2 separate regions of the Homo sapiens genome follow, and region 1 is linked to region 2. Evidence: fine-mapped expression QTL. A gene starts in region 2. The other region holds a variant in brackets. All regions are shown on one strand. Distances are from middle to middle. Region 1 holds the start of LOC124903351 (a long non-coding RNA gene). Region 2 holds the start of GSTZ1 (glutathione S-transferase zeta 1).

What was found. PIP is the estimated chance that this variant, and not a neighbour inherited with it, causes the effect.
Region 1: its variant is fine-mapped to the expression of GSTZ1 in nasal epithelium (TOPMed, PIP 0.90).

Annotation. Positions count from the first base shown.
Region 1 is chr14:77,256,950-77,264,949 of GRCh38, forward strand. TMEM63C (transmembrane protein 63C) reads left to right here. Exons shown (of 24, transcript NM_020431.4): 24 at 1-2,546. It overlaps LOC124903351 (a long non-coding RNA gene), which reads left to right and starts at 2,870. Exons shown (of 2, transcript XR_007064276.1): 1 at 2,870-4,193; 2 at 6,441-6,878. The variant A/G (reference allele first, on the strand shown) is at 3,224.
Region 2 is chr14:77,315,744-77,324,628 of GRCh38, forward strand. It overlaps GSTZ1 (glutathione S-transferase zeta 1), which reads left to right and starts at 5,293. Exons shown (of 9, transcript NM_145870.3): 1 at 5,293-5,440. The coding sequence starts at 5,426. POMT2 (protein O-mannosyltransferase 2) reads right to left here and starts at 5,140. Exons shown (of 21, transcript NM_013382.7): 1 at 4,691-5,140. The coding sequence starts at 4,938. RefSeq lists silencers at 4,627-4,676, 4,907-5,286 and enhancers at 5,367-5,636, 5,514-6,375, 5,907-5,956.

The DNA of each region.
Region 1 (8,000 bases), 59 kb before region 2:
TGGGAGGATACAGGCAAGCACATGTCTTGAGAGAGGTGGCTGGAGCCCCGGCACAGAGACTGAACGCTGGGGTCCCTTCCTGGGACCAAGATGGAGAAGGTGTTCCTAAGGGAGGAGACAGAAGGAGGCTGCCGAAGGCTCTGTGGGGTCATCACCACTCTGCATCAGCTGCCCTTCCAAGGAGCTTCTGCTGCTGCTCCTCCTCCCAGCCCCGGCCCATTCCTCCCCTGCAGTCTGAGGAGGCAAAGGTATGTGCACGGGGCACATTGACAGGACACGGAGGACCACCTCATCACAGGGTTCCCTGCATGGGGATCTGTAAAGAGAAAGTTTCTGCACCCACCAGAGCAAGAGCCAACTGAAAGCGTAGACCTGAGAAGAGGTAACTCAGCCCCTTCCTGCTCCTCTGCCCTCATCAGATGTCCCCAGGAGCAGCAGGGCAGAGGCCCTTCTTTCTATTCTTACAAGGGTAGCTAGAGCGTGATCACTCAGGGCTCATCAAATGAGACTCGTGTGCATTTTTCAGAAGGAAACCTTGGTTAGTCCTTGCTGGGTAACACAAAGTGGGGTGAGACGACAGAAGCCGAATTCATGGAAGGGGGGTCTTCTCCCCAAAACTCTGTGTGGTGGGAAACCAGCTATACCTCCCCAAGCCCCAGGGCCTAAAGAGAAGACCCCCGAAGCCAAAGATGTGGCCACTTAAAAGCGTCTCCTGCCTCCTACCCAACTGAGTGCCTGGGCCCCCAGCTTGGCCAAGATGGGCAGTACGTTAGGGTAAGAACCCCATGCTTCAAACTTAAGGACTGACCATCACCTGCGTCCCAAGTAGGACCCTTCCTCCCTTCTCGGGGCTGCCCCTGCACCCTGCCTTGAAGACCACCCAAGCGGCCTCCAGTGTGGGCCTGGTCCAGACATTGCAGATGCTTCAACCGTGATGTCGCCCCAGGCCTGCCAGGGGTGTGGTGGAGGGGAAGGCCACGTGCTCCAGGGAGAAGCCCTTTCTGGAGAAGCAAGGCTGTCCTCCCAGGGCTGCCACTACCAGAGACCTGGGGGAGCTGAATTCCGAACAGTGATGGTGACACTCAGCACCTTTGCCACAGCCGGGGGGAACCGGCTTCTGCCTCTGGGATGGGCTCTCATCAGGACCACCGTGCAGCCCAGCCAGGGAGGACATGAGAAGGGCCAGTGGGGGCCTCAATGAACCAGAACAAGCCAAGCTGAATGGGGTCTGTGTGCTCCAGGGCCCTCTTCAGCCCCCTCCCCCAAAGGTCTGGGTCCCTGCCACCAACCTACTGAAGGCCGGCCCCCGGCTCACCTCACCTGAGCACCTGCACCAGGCCCCAGGCACATGGCTGCCCTGAACTCAGATCACCTAGACCTTGTCCCTGCCCCACCTTTGCCCCATCCTAGCCCCAGAAGCTCCAAGCTTCACCGCAGGTGAGAAATTGTGCTCAATGGGCAGAAACTGCTATACCCCCAGGGCATGGCCCACATTTTGGCATGAGGGTGTCTTTCCAGAGAGCTTGGGTTGGCTGGAGAGAGGCTGTCTTTCCCATTCCTTGTCCAGCTAGGAATAAAGGGGAAATGGTCCTAGCCTGGCCCCTACACACCCAGGTCCCACAGGCCCCCTCCCCACTGGAATTTCACCAACCAACAAGGGGAAAGTACGCTGTTACAGCATAGCGGTCAGGCCCAGCAGGAGCTTGGCACATGATGGGGAGGTGGCCAGCTCCAGGCCCTGCCCGACCCCATCATGTGTATTTGGTGTATGGGGTGTGGGGGGTCACACCAGAAGCTGGCCTGGGGTCTCTTCTTTGCTGGACACAGCTCCCTGGCCCCTGCCCCCAGCCCCTGCAGCCCCTGCCGGACTGTGGAAGCCACATATGGGAAAAGTCCTGGCAGACAATGTGGCGGGATGACTGGGGGCTTCTCCCTCTGAACCTGGGTCCAGTGTAGCCTGGCTCTGAGAGAAGGTGGTGAGCATGTGGAGAAGGTTCCATAGTCCACTCTTAGGGGAACCAGCAAAGCCTCATGGCAGTTGGCTCCATCTGGACCTCCCATGGTCACTACAGGATGGTGGAGCAGGGGGCATCTTTTAGCCTCCCCCCGCCACCACATCCAGGCCCTCTCAGGCACCTCCTGCCTCAGCCCACACCTGCCTCACCCATTGCCCCCCTCCCCCCACCTACTGCCATCCCACTCCTCTGCCAGCCACTTCCCAGCCGCCCCACCCCACTCCATCCACCAAATCACCTCCTGACTTAATCCTTTCTGGAAGGAGCTGCCGCCCAGGAACCGGTATTGCCTAGAGCCTCCAGGAGGGGCCCTCCTCAGGCCTCCAGTGGCCCCATGCCCACCTGCCTGACCCTCCACTGCCCCTGGAAGCAAAGTGCCTATCAGCAGCGTTGCGTCCTCTGGGGCCCCCGGTCGGGGGGGAGGGGGTGTGGGCTAACCTTGGCCACCACCACAAAAGGAATGTGCCAGAATGCTGAACCTTCTTGTTAATGCTATGACCGTGCCTTGAATAAACAAGTCCTCCCAACCTCTCCTGGCCCCTGCCTCTCTGCCTGTGCATCTGGGCCAGCCTGGCCTTGCTCCGCTGTGCAGTGGAGAGAACTTTCTGGTCCTTGAGCTACCCAGGAAGCCAGCAGGGCAGCCCCGAGGAGCAGCAGAAGTCTCTGGTGAGTGCTGAGCCCCATGAGCAGGCCACTGGGCTAGGCTAGTGGCCAGACTTCAAAACACACAGATTTCAGGTGAGGCCCCAGGAAGAGCGGCAGACAGGGCTCAGGTCTGCAAGAGGATGAGGGTGGGGGACTTGGGGGATGGGGGAGGTGGAGGAGAGGTTGGGTGGAGGAGAGGTTGGCACGAGGGAAGTGTGTGGGGCAGCCAGGTGGGATAAGAAACACCCGTTAGCAAAGGCTGTTATAACTGTGGCAAGGAGACAACAGTTCCCTGCCCTGGCGGACACATCTCAGGGTCAGGAGACTGGTTCTGTCCCTTCCTCCAGCAGCTGCATGACCCAGGCTGGTCACCTCATCCAGACAGTAGGGCTGGGAGGACATGAAGCGGACTGTTCTGCTTCGTGACTGAGCAGAGCAGATTTGAGGGCAGAAGATGGGAATCTTGTGGGTGTGTTGAGTAGGGGGAGACTTCCTCCCGCAGTGCTCCCTATGGGGACAGAGGATGACAGTCTCAGGGTGGCTGCCTAAGGACTCTTTCCTGC[A/G]TCATCCTCGCTGGGTCCTCTCCGCAAACTTCTACGGTCCATCAGTGGCCACTGACTCAAAGTCTACCAAGGTGTGGGCCTGGGCGTGGGATCAAGACCCGTCCACTTGTCCCCTCTCCCCCTCAAAACAATTATTTTCCAAGTCAAGTCAGCCCTTAAAATCCACAAGGGCTGCTTCGCAGGAGAGAAGCCATGAAGACTCCCTGACTGGACGGGACGGGGCTGCGCCCTGCTGCTGCCTCTCATGGTCCCCTCCCAGGGGCCGGCAGCTCCAGGGTCCCCAGATGGCAGGCCTGGGACACTCTGTGGTTCAGCAGACCTTTCGAGGGCCTTTTATCAGGCAGAGACTGAGAAAGAGACAGAAAAACAAGCCGAAGAGGGAGGGCGGTCTCCCCAAGGATGGAATGTCCTCCAGGGAGGTTAGTGTTGGTCAATCCTCTCTCCACTCAGCAGGCCAGGATGGACCGGAGGCCTGAAGGTGGATTTACCTGGGCTGGGGACGGGACTGGGGCAGGGCAAGAGGGAGCCCCAGGAGGCTGGCTCCACTGGGCTGTGCCCAAGAAAGGATTGGAGCACGTGACCGAGTGCTGCGCAGGGAGGAAGCAGCGGGGCCTGAGAGTGCCCCATGCCTCTGCCCAGAAACCAAGCCTGGGGCTGCACGGGGCCCCGCCAGGGAAGCCTGAGGCAGCTCACTTCTGTCCTGAGGAACCTCCTTGCTGGCCAGATTCCAGGTTTCTAGGTCTGCTCTGTGGAAGGCCTTGCAGAGGCGAGGAGAGCCTGGTCTATGGGGAGACAGGTTCCCAGGCTTTCTGAACAGAGGCTGCTTTCAGAACATCTGACAGTCCCTCGGCCTGGACAAGTGGCAGCCCGGCAGCTCTCAGCCTCAATTCCCAAGGTTCTCCAGCCCAGCTGCAAAGGAGAGTCACTCTCAATGTCCAGGCCCCATCCCTGAAAAACCAAAATTTCTCAGGTGGGGCCCAGTACCCTGTATTTTACAAAAGTCCCCCAGGTGATTCCAGTGTGCAGGGAGGGGTGAGTGGATAAGGAAAACAGTCCCAACCTCAGGCACTGCATGCCCTGGGTGGCCTCAGCATCTCACCATCGCCAGCTTAGAAATGACAACTCCCTAGCTCAGGCACGCTTCTGCCATCTTTATCTTCTTTTGCAATAAGTATGAGTACCATGTGGGCCCGAGGGCCACACACCAGGTGTCAGGGGCACTTCTGGCTACCTTGTCATCTTCAGCAAGGGTTCAAAGACTGTCCCTCTTCCCTCCCCTCCAAACACAGAGCCCAGTGGCTTCCATGACCGCCTGCCCATTTCCGTGCAACAGAACGTGACAAGTGCAGTAAACAAATAGGCCTACATAATGGGGTGTCAGGGAGAGACAAAGCCGGATAGGGGCAAGGGGTGCCTGTAGGTGGGGAGAGGATGCTTTGCACTAGAGAGGCCAGCACAAGCTCTGTGGAGGTGAGACATGAGAGCCAGCAAAGGGTCTGTGGGCACACATGCGGAGCCCAAAGAACCAGGCAGAGTGAGCGAGGGGAGGAGAGGGTGGGGCGAGGTCTGAGTGGGCAACAGGCTGTGCAGGCCACGCTGGGACTCCAAGTTTCACTCATCATCTGAGAAACTATGGGAGGATTCTGGGTAGGAGTATGATCCCCTTATGTGTTTGTTTTCCAGGTTTTTTTGTTGTGGTGGTGGTGGTAAAGTACACATAATCATATTCACCATCTTAACCATTTATGGGTTTTTTGTTTGTTTGTTTTGTTGTTGTTGTTGAGACAGAGTCTTGCTCTGTCACCCAGGCTGGAGTGCAATGGCGTGATCTGGGTGCAGTGCAACCTCCGCCTCCCAGGTTCAAGCAATTCTCCTTCTTCAGCCTCCCAAGTAGCTGGGATTACAGGCATATGCCATCATCATTTTTGTATTTTTTAGTAGAGATGGGGTTTCACCATATTGGCCAGGCTGGTCTCGAACTCCTGACCTCAAGCAATCCGCCCACCTTGGCCTCCCAAAGTGCTAGGATTATAGGCGTGAGCCACCGCGCCCGGCCACCATCTTAACCATTTGTAACTGTCCTGTTCAGTGGCATGAAATACATTCGTAATGTGCAACCATTACCACCAGCCATCCTCCACAACTCTTTATCTTGCAAAACTGAGACTGTATACCCATAATCAATAATTCCTCATTCCCTCCTCCCCTTAGCCCCTGGCCACCACCCATGTAACTCTTATGTGCTGAAATGGTCACTGTCACCAGGGTAGGACAAGTAGAAGCAGAAAGCCCAGCTGGGGCCAGGTGTGGTGGTGCACACCTGTAATCCCAGCATTTTGGGAGGCTGAGGTGAGAGGATTACTTGGGGCCAGGGGCTTGAGACCAGCCTGGGCAACAAAGCAAGACCCTATCTCCACAAAAATTTTAAAAATTAGCTGGGCATGGTGGCATGCACCTGGAGTCCCAACTACTCGGGAGACTGAGGCAGGAGGATTCCTTGAACCCAGGATTTCAAGGCTGCAGTGAGCAATGATCATGCCACCACACTTCAGCCTGGGCAACAGAGTGAGATCCTGTCTAAAAAAAAAAAAAAAAAAAGCCCAGTTGGGACTGTGTCAGAGGCATTCAGGAGAGAGAATATGGTAGCTTGCACCAGGATAGGGAGTGAATAAAGAAGCAGTTAAACTTGGAACAGAGGTTGAGGATTCATGGATGATTAGATGTGGGGTCTGAGGGAAAGCAGGAACGCAAGGATGACTCCCAGATCTTCAGCATGAACAACTCAGCACACTCTGGTTTGAGGTGGAGAAAGCTGGGAAGAAAAAGGCCAAGGGAAACCCCAAGAGTTCCATCTTGAGTGTGTTCTGGTTAAGATGCTATGTGGGGATGTCAAGAAGGTGGCTAGATACAGGAGTCGGGCTGGAGATGTCATCAGCACCTGGGTGGTGATTAAAGCATGGGACTGGCTGAGACTTTGATGGGAGCAGGTGCAGGTGAGGAGGTCTGAGGGCTGAGCCAGCACAAAGAGATGGGAGGAGAACCGGCAAGGAAAACCAGGAGGGACTCAAAAAGGAAGGAGGGTGTCCCCAGCTCTAACCACGCTTGGCAGTAAATGCGGTGCATAGAGGAATAAGTCAAAAGATGCCACGAAGCAGCTTCAGCCAAGTGGAGAATGCTGAACAGGCCATTAGACAAATGACCCACTTCTCCCACACAGCAATGGTGAGGGGAAATGGCAAGAGGGGCCAGGCCAAAGTGAAAGAGTGAAGAGACACAATCAAATGCGAAGTGTGCATCCTGAGTTGAACAAACCAACTGCAGAGAGACGTCTGGGAAATCTACACGTGGATGAATGTGGGCCATCAGGGAATTTGAATTAGGTGATGATGAGAAGATACCGTTCATCTTGTTAGATGTATTGATGGCGTGGCTTCATATGTGAAATAAAGTGCCAGCTAGAAATTCATATGGAAGAATTTACAGGTAAAAGAACATGAAGTCTTGGATTTGCTTTAAAACTCTCCAGCAAAAACAAAGAAACAAAAACAAAAATGGGAGGGGGGTGTGGTTGGGGGAAGAGGTGCATGGAGATTCCCTCATCTCTTGATTCTTGTGTATGTTAACATTTTTCCATAATAAAAAGTGTAAAAATAAAGGCATGACCAACTTTTTCGAGTGCTGCTGAGCAGGAGAGGAAGATAAGGACTAAGATGTGACTCTACATCTGGCAAGATGAGGGTGGTTGGTGACCTTGACTGTAGTAGATTGAAAGTGGGGGCAAAGCCTGGTTGAAGCAGGTTCCCATCCTCCCATAAGAAGTGAGGAGATGAAAACAGCAAGGAAAGACTGCTCTTTCGAAGGGTTTTGCTATCAAAGGAAGAAAAGAACCAAAGGGGTAGCTGGAGAGGAAAGGAAGTGAGGGGTTGTTCTTTGTATAGGAGGGGAGATGTGGGCTGATAGAGGAGGGATGCAGGAGAGAGGGCTGAGCCCTTGAGCAGAGGAGGAGGTAAGGGATACTCTCCCCTGATACAGACGTGCGTGCATACACGCACACGTGCACACACACATGCATACACACGCGTGCACACACACCAGTGCATGCCCATGCACACACGCACTCACACCTAAGTAGAAGAGTGGCTTTCAAAAAAGGTGAAAGCATCCATGCTTAGGATGACTCAGACACAGGTCAGAGGAGGGCATTAGACCTTTCCAAAGCCAGGCCACCTAGAGAGCTGTGGGCCAGACATGGACACCTGAGCCTGACCCATTAATAGGTCACACAGCAGATGAGGCCCTCACTCACTGCAGCCTGTAGGGCTCCAGAAAATGCTCTGGGCACCACAGCGGCCAAGGCGTTCCTAACATGCTGCAGACCCAGTGCCTGCAGTCACATAGCCTGGCAGGCCTGGCATCTGAGCTTAAAGAAAATGAGGCCCCATCTGGGAGCTGGCAAGGCCCCGTGGGCATCTGCTACATTCAGTCTTGGCTGAGAAACTGGAAGCCCAGGGCGAGGACAGCCAGCCCAGGCACAGGCCTTGCAGCCATGCGTGGGCTTCGGGCCCGCCGCCGAGGCTGGAACACATGGAGGTAACCCCAAACCTGCTCCAATCATGCCTACTCAACACAGCTTCTCTTCCCCACGTCCCTGGCTGGCTTTCTAGCCCACAGCCTGTGGGGTCCCAAGCCCCCGACCAATGACCTGCTTCAGACCATGGATCAGTGCGGGTATGGGTTTAACTAACCCCAAAATGTGTAATGGCATAAACACAAGAGA
Region 2 (8,885 bases):
GCTCATGCCTGTAATCCCAACCCTTTGGGAGGCCGAGGCGGGCGGATCACCTGAGGTCAGGAGTTTGAGACCAGCCTGGCCAACATGGTGAAACCCTGTCTCTACTAAAAATACAAAAAGGTAGCCAGGCGTGATAGGGGCGCCTGTAATCCCAGCTACTCGGGAGGCTAAGGCAGAGAATTGCTTGAAGCCAGGAGGCAGAGGTTGCAGTGAGCTGAAATTGCGCCACTGCACTCCAGCCTGGGCGACAGAGCGAGAATCTCAAAAAACAAAAACAAACAAACAAAAAACAACTTTGTGGCTGCTGGAGTACTGAGAGCCATGCACCAGAATCACAGTGCCACCTGCTGGACATAGGTACCAAGCACACCCTTTTTAAAAGGACAGCTATTAACTCCTTAGTTAACTACTCAACACTTTGAAATTGATTGCCAGACCCATAAAGGCCTCAGGACTCCCTGGCCTAGTATTCCCACTTTGGGGTGGGTCAATGGGAATCTACTGATAACAAGGGAAGGGTTTAACAAGCCTCACTGATCCTATGGAAATAGTACATTCAAGAGTACAGCTGGTAATCCCAGCTATTCAGGAGGCTGAGGCAGGAGGATGGCTTGAGGTCAGGAGTTCAAGACCAGCCTTGGCAGGATAGTGAGAACTCAGCTCTTAAAAAATCTGTTTTAATTAGCTGGACATGGTGGCACGTGCCTGTAGTGCCAGCTACTCAGGAGGCTGAGACAGGAGGAGCCCAGGAGTTTGAGGATGCAGTGAGCTATGATTGTACCACTCCACTCCAGACTGGGCAACAGAGTCAGATCTCATCTCTAAAAAAAAAAAAAAAAAAAAAAAAGAGTATAGCTAGCCTGGCCCTAGAGGCATCTTGGTTTTACGTGAAGAAGTGGCAGCTCCCACTCTGGGAGAAACAACCTTCTCTGCTACCTGAAGCCGAGCTGCTGTTCAGTAGGGCCCTTGATTCACAGGGGTTCCTGTAAATGCTTAGGCCTGGCTCACCAATGATTAGGCTGAGTTAAAAGCTGATGTTGCCCACCAAGCAGCAGCAGGCACTTAGCCCCAATGATAACTCTGGATGGCTGATGGCAGTAAGGATTGAAGCATTTGGTATGCCACTTGGAAGACTAAATACTGAGAGATGAAAGCTGAGAAGTGTGGAAACACATCATGGCTGCCTGCCAATAGGACAGACTGGATCACTCACGTAGGTGCCCACACTAAGGGCAGGTACTCTCGTAAGACTGACTGGAATCAAACTGCTGATCCAGCCTGCACCACCAAGACTGCTGCCATAGCCACCTGGATTCATGCAACCGGTGTGGAAACATCTACCATCATGGGCTAGGCACAACGTAAGGGACTACATGTTTCTGAGGCAGAAGCCACCACTGCGTGCCAGACTTGTGACTCCTGCCAAAAGTTGGCCTGCTTGTCTTGCAGTAAAGGAAGCCACATTGCAAGGGGCACTGACCACACCTGCTCCTGGGAGATTGACATTAGGACTTTGTTCCCTTCTCTAGGCTCTCATCAGTACCTTGCTACTGCTGATACTTTTTCAGTTTACAGTGCTGATGTTGCTTTTCCAGTCCAATTATCTGACTCTGTGTATACCACTGTGGCCCTTGAAACTAAACTGCCAGGTTTTCTGCTTTCCAAACCATCTACAGTCTGACACTGGCATATCTTTTTGTCGCAATGGCCACCCAACAGTGTCAACAGTCAATAGCCAAGGTATTCGATGGACCTCCCACACTCCCTACCATCCACAGGCATGACATTGTCAAGTACTGAACAGTTCCCTCAAAGATCAACTCAAAAAGATTTTTGATTCTATGTTTTTAACCTCCTCCTGGTCTGCAAACCTTACTGAAGCAGTTTGGTCACCTAAGGCAGCCATTCTCAGAAATGGGTCATCTCCTTTTGCCTACCAACTGGGTAATGATCAGGAAAAAGGGGTGGAGGGTTATATAAACCTATTTTGAAAATGTGAGATTCTCCCCTGACCATTTCTGGCCATGATTCATCTTTCTTCCCCCTTACAGAAAGCCCAGATCAGCTGGGAGGAGGAGGCTATCTATGTAATTCAGACTTAATTCTAGTTCAGTCACTAGATTGTCTTGTTGGAATGGCCTGGTGCCAGAACATAAAGTTAATGATCATTTGGTTGGGTATAGTGCTTTTAAAGTCCCCCTACAGTGGCCCACATGTGTCAAGGTAGAAGACATAATGGGCCTCTGTCAATTTTCTAACAATTGGATATTAGAAGGCCTGCGTATTGGTAGGGGATAAATGGAGAAAAGGTGAAGTTATAGTTACTAGGGTAGGACACACTCATTATGTAGCAATGGAAGGAAAGAAACAATCCTGGCATCTGGGGAAGGAACACCACAGGACCCTGGAGATGTAAAGAGAAGGGAAACAATGTTCTCTTTGTCCCTATCCAGCACCAAAGCCTGGCAAACATTCACATGGTCCATCTAGGTCAAGCAGCAACTGTGGCTGGCAATCTGACCTGTGGCTGAGTTTGTCATCTCACTATGAAAACATAAAAACTTTATCTAGCAGGTCAGTATAAAAAAGAAAATAAAAAAAGAAAACAAAAACTCACATGGACACGGCCAGTCTTGAACTATTCCCACGTGCCTGATGACATCAACACCAACTCCCAAACGCAGACCTCCCTCATAGGTGTGCAAACACACAGATCAGCACCACCTTCTATCAATGCGGCTGATACAAATCACATGCTTCTCCTGAGATCCTAAGGGCCTTACTTAGGTTATGCCTTGTCTAGTGATTGAGGCTGCAACTGTTCAGTGACACTGCCCATGTGGTTTAAACCACTGTAATGGTAATCAAATTTGATGGTGATCCAAATAAAAATCTAACAAAAATCCTGGAGTGGCCTGCACTCCTCCAAGTAATATGTTAGTGTAAGGAAGAATGGGTCACAAAATATCTTTCCATTAATCATGGTAGTTAATTTTTTTTTTTTTTTTTTGAGACAGAGTCTGGCTTTGTCGCCTAGGCTGGAATGCAATGGTGCGATCTTAGCTCACTGCAACCTCTGCTTCCCAGGTTCAAGTGATTCTCCCACCTCAGCCTCCCGAGTAGCTGGGATTACAGGCACCCGCCATCATGCCCGGCTAAGTCTTGTATTTTCAGTTGAGACGGAGTTTCACCATGTTGGCCAGGTTGGTCTCGAACTCCTGACCTCAGGTGATCTGCCCGCCTCGGCCTCCCAAACTGCCGGGATTACAGGTGTGAGCCACTGCGCCCAGCCTGGTAATTACTTTCTTAAAAAAATTTTTACAAGGGTAGTGGGCTATTGTAATTACTGGTAATGACACCAAAGATCAGAGATCAATCTGAACCCCTGTGCACAGGTCACAGTGGTTAATAGACTGGTCTTAGACTGCAGCCCAGATGTCTGAAATAAGATTCCTCGGTGCCCCCAGGACTTATTCACAAGTGGCTGAATCCAGGACCCTGGAGGGCATGGTTGAGGTAAATACTGTAAGCTGGCCTTATTCTGCTGCTTAGAGTCCCATTGACAACAACCTTAATTAAATGCTGTAAGGGACAAACTGAAAAGATGTGAGTAGCCAGGGGAGTTGTATATTCATGTGAAAATCTGCTAGAAGCCAAGACCATAGAATCGAGGAGTGAGAGAGGCTGTCAGATTGCTCGTGCCTCTACACATCATTCTGGGTATACCAAGAATGCAAGGCCCTGACTGCATCTCACCTGGGCCATTTCTCATGGTTGTGTTTGCAGCAAGCAACTTTGAGAGAAGAGGCAGTGTCTCCCTCCAGGACAAAGAGGAGGTCTGCGTACTGCCTTCTATAAAACAGCAGATTTTCCAAGCTTGTCGTTCCTTCACTTGGATGCAACCCACTGCCTGTGCAGTCATCCATTTAAACCCATAGCGTCACCCTGTGGGACTTGGATGGCAAGGGAAACTGCTTCTAACATGCATCCTATTTCCTGTAATAAAGTCCTTTGTCTCTAACCCAGGAGTCTCATCTTCTGCCAGCAGTCACGACACAATAACAAGCTAATTTATTAATTTCTAAATAAAGCAACCCTGACAGTCTGTTTTCTTGCCTGCTTTTTGCTTAAAGAATTCCATTTCTGACACCCAGTATCTGGATAGTACAAGCTAAAACCTTTAAGAAAATAAATCTCTTCTCACAAGAAGAGTTCTGCCTCATAAAATCCTTTGGTCACCATACCTGAACACCCAAACTGTCCTTGCCCTATAGGATAAAGGTACACAGTTAGGTATTTTCTCCTCTGTTGATGCCTGAAAATCCTGCAGACATAGGAACTCAGGCCTTAGAAAATTCTGTACCCAAAAATTTGCAATTCTCTTTGGAAAGTTGAAAGCACCTTTAAAAGCCACAATTTGCAAGCCAGGTGATGCACTGTAGCATAACCTGGAAGACATGAGGGCTGCTTCCTCAGATACTAAGAATCCCACTGCCCCACCACCAGAGCAAAACGATCCCCCTCCCAGAGAATGCACCTCGCCAGAGGCCAACCCACCCGATACCTCAAGTTCCCCTCCACCGTGGCCCTCCTCCTATAGATCCCGCCCCCTCCGTACCCTCGGGCCAATCAGAGGGCGGCGTCCCGTCGCGGTTGCCATGGTGCCCGCCGAGTCCCTCCCATCACTCACCAGATGTGCGGCGGCTCGTCCAAGCGGTGGAAGCGGGTGGCGAAGGACAGCAGCGTCACCAAGGCCAGCAGGGCCCACCAGCCGACCGCCTCGAAGCGCCGTGAGCCCCAAGCAGGCCGTTTGGGGCTTCGCGCCACAGCCTCAGCGGCCACGTCCCGGCCTGCGGCCCTAGCAGCCTGGGGGCCACAGCGGCCCCTCCGGGGACGCAGCTCGGACTCTGCCAGGCCTCCGCCCGTGGCCGGCGGCATCTTCCCCCTCCTCTGGGTCGCCCTCCGGCCCGGAGGCACACTTTGTCTGACCAGCCGCCCCGCCAAGGAGTCACAAGAGGGCAGCTCGGGGTACCCCGGGAAATGCAACGCCCTTCACTGCAGCGGAGCGCGGGGCCCCGGGCTCGGGGCGGGGCGGGCAGCGTGGTCGCGGCCCGGGCCGCTAGGAGGCGGCAGGAGGCGCAGAGCATGTCGGGACCGGGAGGGCCGGCCGGCCCGGGGCGGGGGGGACTGGGCAGGAGGGGTCGGGCTCAGGGAACTGCAACTCCCAGCAGCCCCCAGGTACGGGGCGTGGCGGGAGAGCTGGGCGAGCCAGAGGCGACCGGAAGGATCTTTCTAGTCCAGCCCCTCGCTTTACCCGGACGAAAGACACGGGCCTGATTCGTCGAGTCTCACTGAGCCTTAGTCGTCGGCAGGTCCCAGGCGCGAAGTTTCTCGGCCTGGAGGAGGGGGTCGCGCGAAGTGCCAGATGCAGGCGGGGAAGGTCTGTGACGCGCACCCGGGTGGAGGGAAGCTGGTTAGACACCTGGAGACCCTGGGGGGCGGGGTCAGAAGTGAGCTGCACCGCCCGCCCAGGCCGACAACGACTCCCGGCATGCAGTGCTTTGCGCCGGGCACGCTCTGCGCCTGCGTGCTGCGCGCTGCCCGCTGGGGCTCGAAGTTCCGGGAGGGTTGGGCCAGAGGAGGCGGTCCTGGTAGGGAGTGCGTAGCAGGGTGGAGTCGCTGTCCGGTCGCGCTTCACTTCTGCTCCGCCCTCCCTGCTCCCCATAACAGACCCCTCCCTCCACTAAGGCTTCCAAACGTCGCCCCAAGCCTCCCAATTTCTCGCAGCCCTTCATGCTCTTCTCTTGGCCCTAGCAGGAGGTGACCTTCCAGTAATGTTTGTATTTTAAGAGTCCCCGGGCCGGGCGCGGTGGCTCACGCCTGTAATCCCAGCACTTTGGGAGGCCGAGGCGGGCGGATCACAAGGTCAGGAGATAGAGACCATCCTGGCTAACACGATGAAACCCTGTCTCTATTAAAATACAAAAAAATTAGCCAGGCGTGGTAGCGGGCGCCTGTAGTCCCAGCTACTCGGGAGGCTGAGGCAGGAGAATAGCGTGAACCCAGGAGGCGGAGCTTGCAGTGAGCCGAGATCGCGCCACTGCACTCCAGCCTGGGCGAAAGAGCGGGACTCCGGCTCAAAAAAAAAAAAAAAAGGCCCCGAGCGAGGAGAGGCAGTCATGACAATCACCTGGGGAGCTTCACGGCTTTCACATGTTCTTCCCGGGGCCTGCTCCAGAGCCACTCTGTTCATCTCTGGTGGAACGGGCTCGAGAATCTGCATGTTTTTATAAGCGGTCTAGATGGTTCTTAACGTGCCATGAAGTTTGAGAACCACTTTTGTGGCACTAAGGAAGGTGGCACGTTAGATGGGACTTTGCGTCACGTTAATAATGTATAGTCCTCCCTCTTCCAAATGGGATTTTAGGAGTCTTTTTCTCAAATCATGTGTAAGACATGGTTTAAAAATAAAATCTGCTAAAGTAATCAGAATGCATATTTGAATTGGAAACACAGGTCTTCTAGGAGTGCTGATGAGATGGATACTTGGGCTTAAAGTTTAGTTCTACAAGTGCAGAAAGGAACGGGGCATGGTTTACATAGTTATCACTGGTAAGAGAAGGCAGAAATTGCCTAAGAGATTTCAGGTTTCCTGCTTGTGGGTCGTGACGGAGGGCAGCAGCATTTACCATGCTTCTGGTCACTCGTAGTACAGATCCAAAGGTGTAATCCAAAGGCATTTAGCCATTAGGTAAGGCATTTCTTCAGGGATTCTAAGCTAATTAATGTCTGCCACACTCTAGTGGTCACCAGCAGTCCCTGTCCCTTGGCACCAGGAGTCCCTGTAGCCTGGCTAGGTAAGGAAAGGGAGTTGCATCTCCAAATAAGGAAGATCCAGTTGTGGCCACCCAATTCCTCCTCTTCGAAAGACACTTTCTGCCCATCACCTGCTTTCTGTGCCAGGACCATCTTTACTTTCTCCACAAAAGGTACCTTCAGGACAGGCTGGGACTGCTGGGCTTGGGAACCATCTTGGAAGGGCCTAGGTTCCCACTTACACCCTTGCCATCTAGCAGACTGAGTTGGTAGTACAGGGATGGCAATAGCAAGTTCAGAGAGCAGCTTAATATGCTAGGGGTGGCAGAGGGGAGAGGGAGCTTTGGTGAAATGTCTATAGTCAGAGGGGTAGTAAACAGGGCATCTGAGAAGTTCTTTCAAGTTCTCCCCTATCCATAGGGATACACATGTTTTGGTGGGAAGATTCATGAGTGCTAATCACTGGCGAGTCTTTCCTGGGTTCCACTTTGAAATGCTGGCTCCCGAAGAAGTACCAGAGAAATTAACTTTGAGCCCCTTAAACCTTGGAGTAGAGATCGCACACCCAGCTGCCCCCAAGGGCCCAAAGGTAACAAAAATGAGAAAAGTGGGCCAGATATGGGCCATGGCAGACCTGAGAGCGCATACGCTGGTTGATGGGGGCCATTAGTCTGTTCCCATCAATTGCTGCTATTTAGGAACCCAAATCTGTCTCCAGATTTTTTTAAAGAAAAAAAACAAACAGGTGTTGTATATAAAATATCATGATTTTTATTTTTATTTTATTTTATTATTTATTTATTTTGAGATGGAGTCTTGCTCTGTCCCCCAGGCTGGAGGGCAGTGACACGATCTTGGCTCACTGTATCCTCCGCCTCCTGGGTTCAAGCAATTCTCATACCTCAGCCTCCCAAGTAGGTGTGATTACAGATGCACACCACCACACCTGGCTAATTTTTGTTTAGCCATGTTGTTTCGCCATGTTGGCCAGGCTGGTCTCGAACTCCTGACCTCAGGTGATCTGCTGGCCTCAGCCTCCCAAAGTGCTGGGATTACAGGCATGACCCACCATACTAGAATGAAATGTCCTGATTTTTAAACATTGGCAACTACTTGAAACATTTTAAACTACTGTGTTGAGCAAACAGAAATTCTGAGGGCCAGATAGGGCCCCAGTGAGCTGCCAGCTTTTGACCTCACCTTTGGGGTGAGTGAGCATATCTGCCAGCTGTTTTTATGGGGACAGCCGAGAGCCCGGAGGACTGCTGGGAGGTGGGGTTGAAGGAGATATGTACCAAAGCGTCAAAAAATTAGAATTCCTTGTCTTGCTGCATTGCTAGAGGATGCCCTGCCATCATTTTAGGGCAACCTTTGTTTTACAAATGAGGGAGCCGAAGATTTAAAAAGGCAGAGGTTTGTCCAAGGTCATGCAGAGCTGGTTCCTGCACCAGGTCCAGACTCCAGATGCCAGCTCCCAGCCCGCTCCACCACTCAAAATACTGCATCAAAACCAGGCCACGCTCTGTTGGGGGGACACCAAACCTGGCCCCAGCAGGAGCGTAAGAAACTTCCTGCGAGTTGGAAAAAAATGCCTTTTTTTTTTTTTTTTTTTTGAGACGCAGTCTCGCTCTGGAGTGCAGTGGTGCGATCTCGGCCCACTGTGACCTCCACCTCTCAGGTTCAAGCTATTCTCTTACCTCAACCTCCTGAGTAGCTGAGATTACAGGCACCCACTACCACACCTGGCTGATTTTTTTTTGTATTTTCAGTAGAGACAGGGTTTCACCATGTTGGCCAGGCTGGTCTCAAACTCCTCACCTCAAATGATCCACCCACCTTGGCTCCCGAAGTGCTGGGATTACAGGCGTGAGCCACTGTGCCTGGCCAGAAATGCCCTTTCTGACCAGAGTCAAAGTTCCCCCAATGCCTGGGTAGCCCAGCTTCCCCATTGGCTCCTGAAATCCACCCCTTTAGGTTTCCTTTCCCTGCTCAGAAGCTGTGCCAGAGGGGACATTTCCTGGGAGGCTGAGGGTCACCACGATACCATGACAGAGTCTGGCAAGGTATGG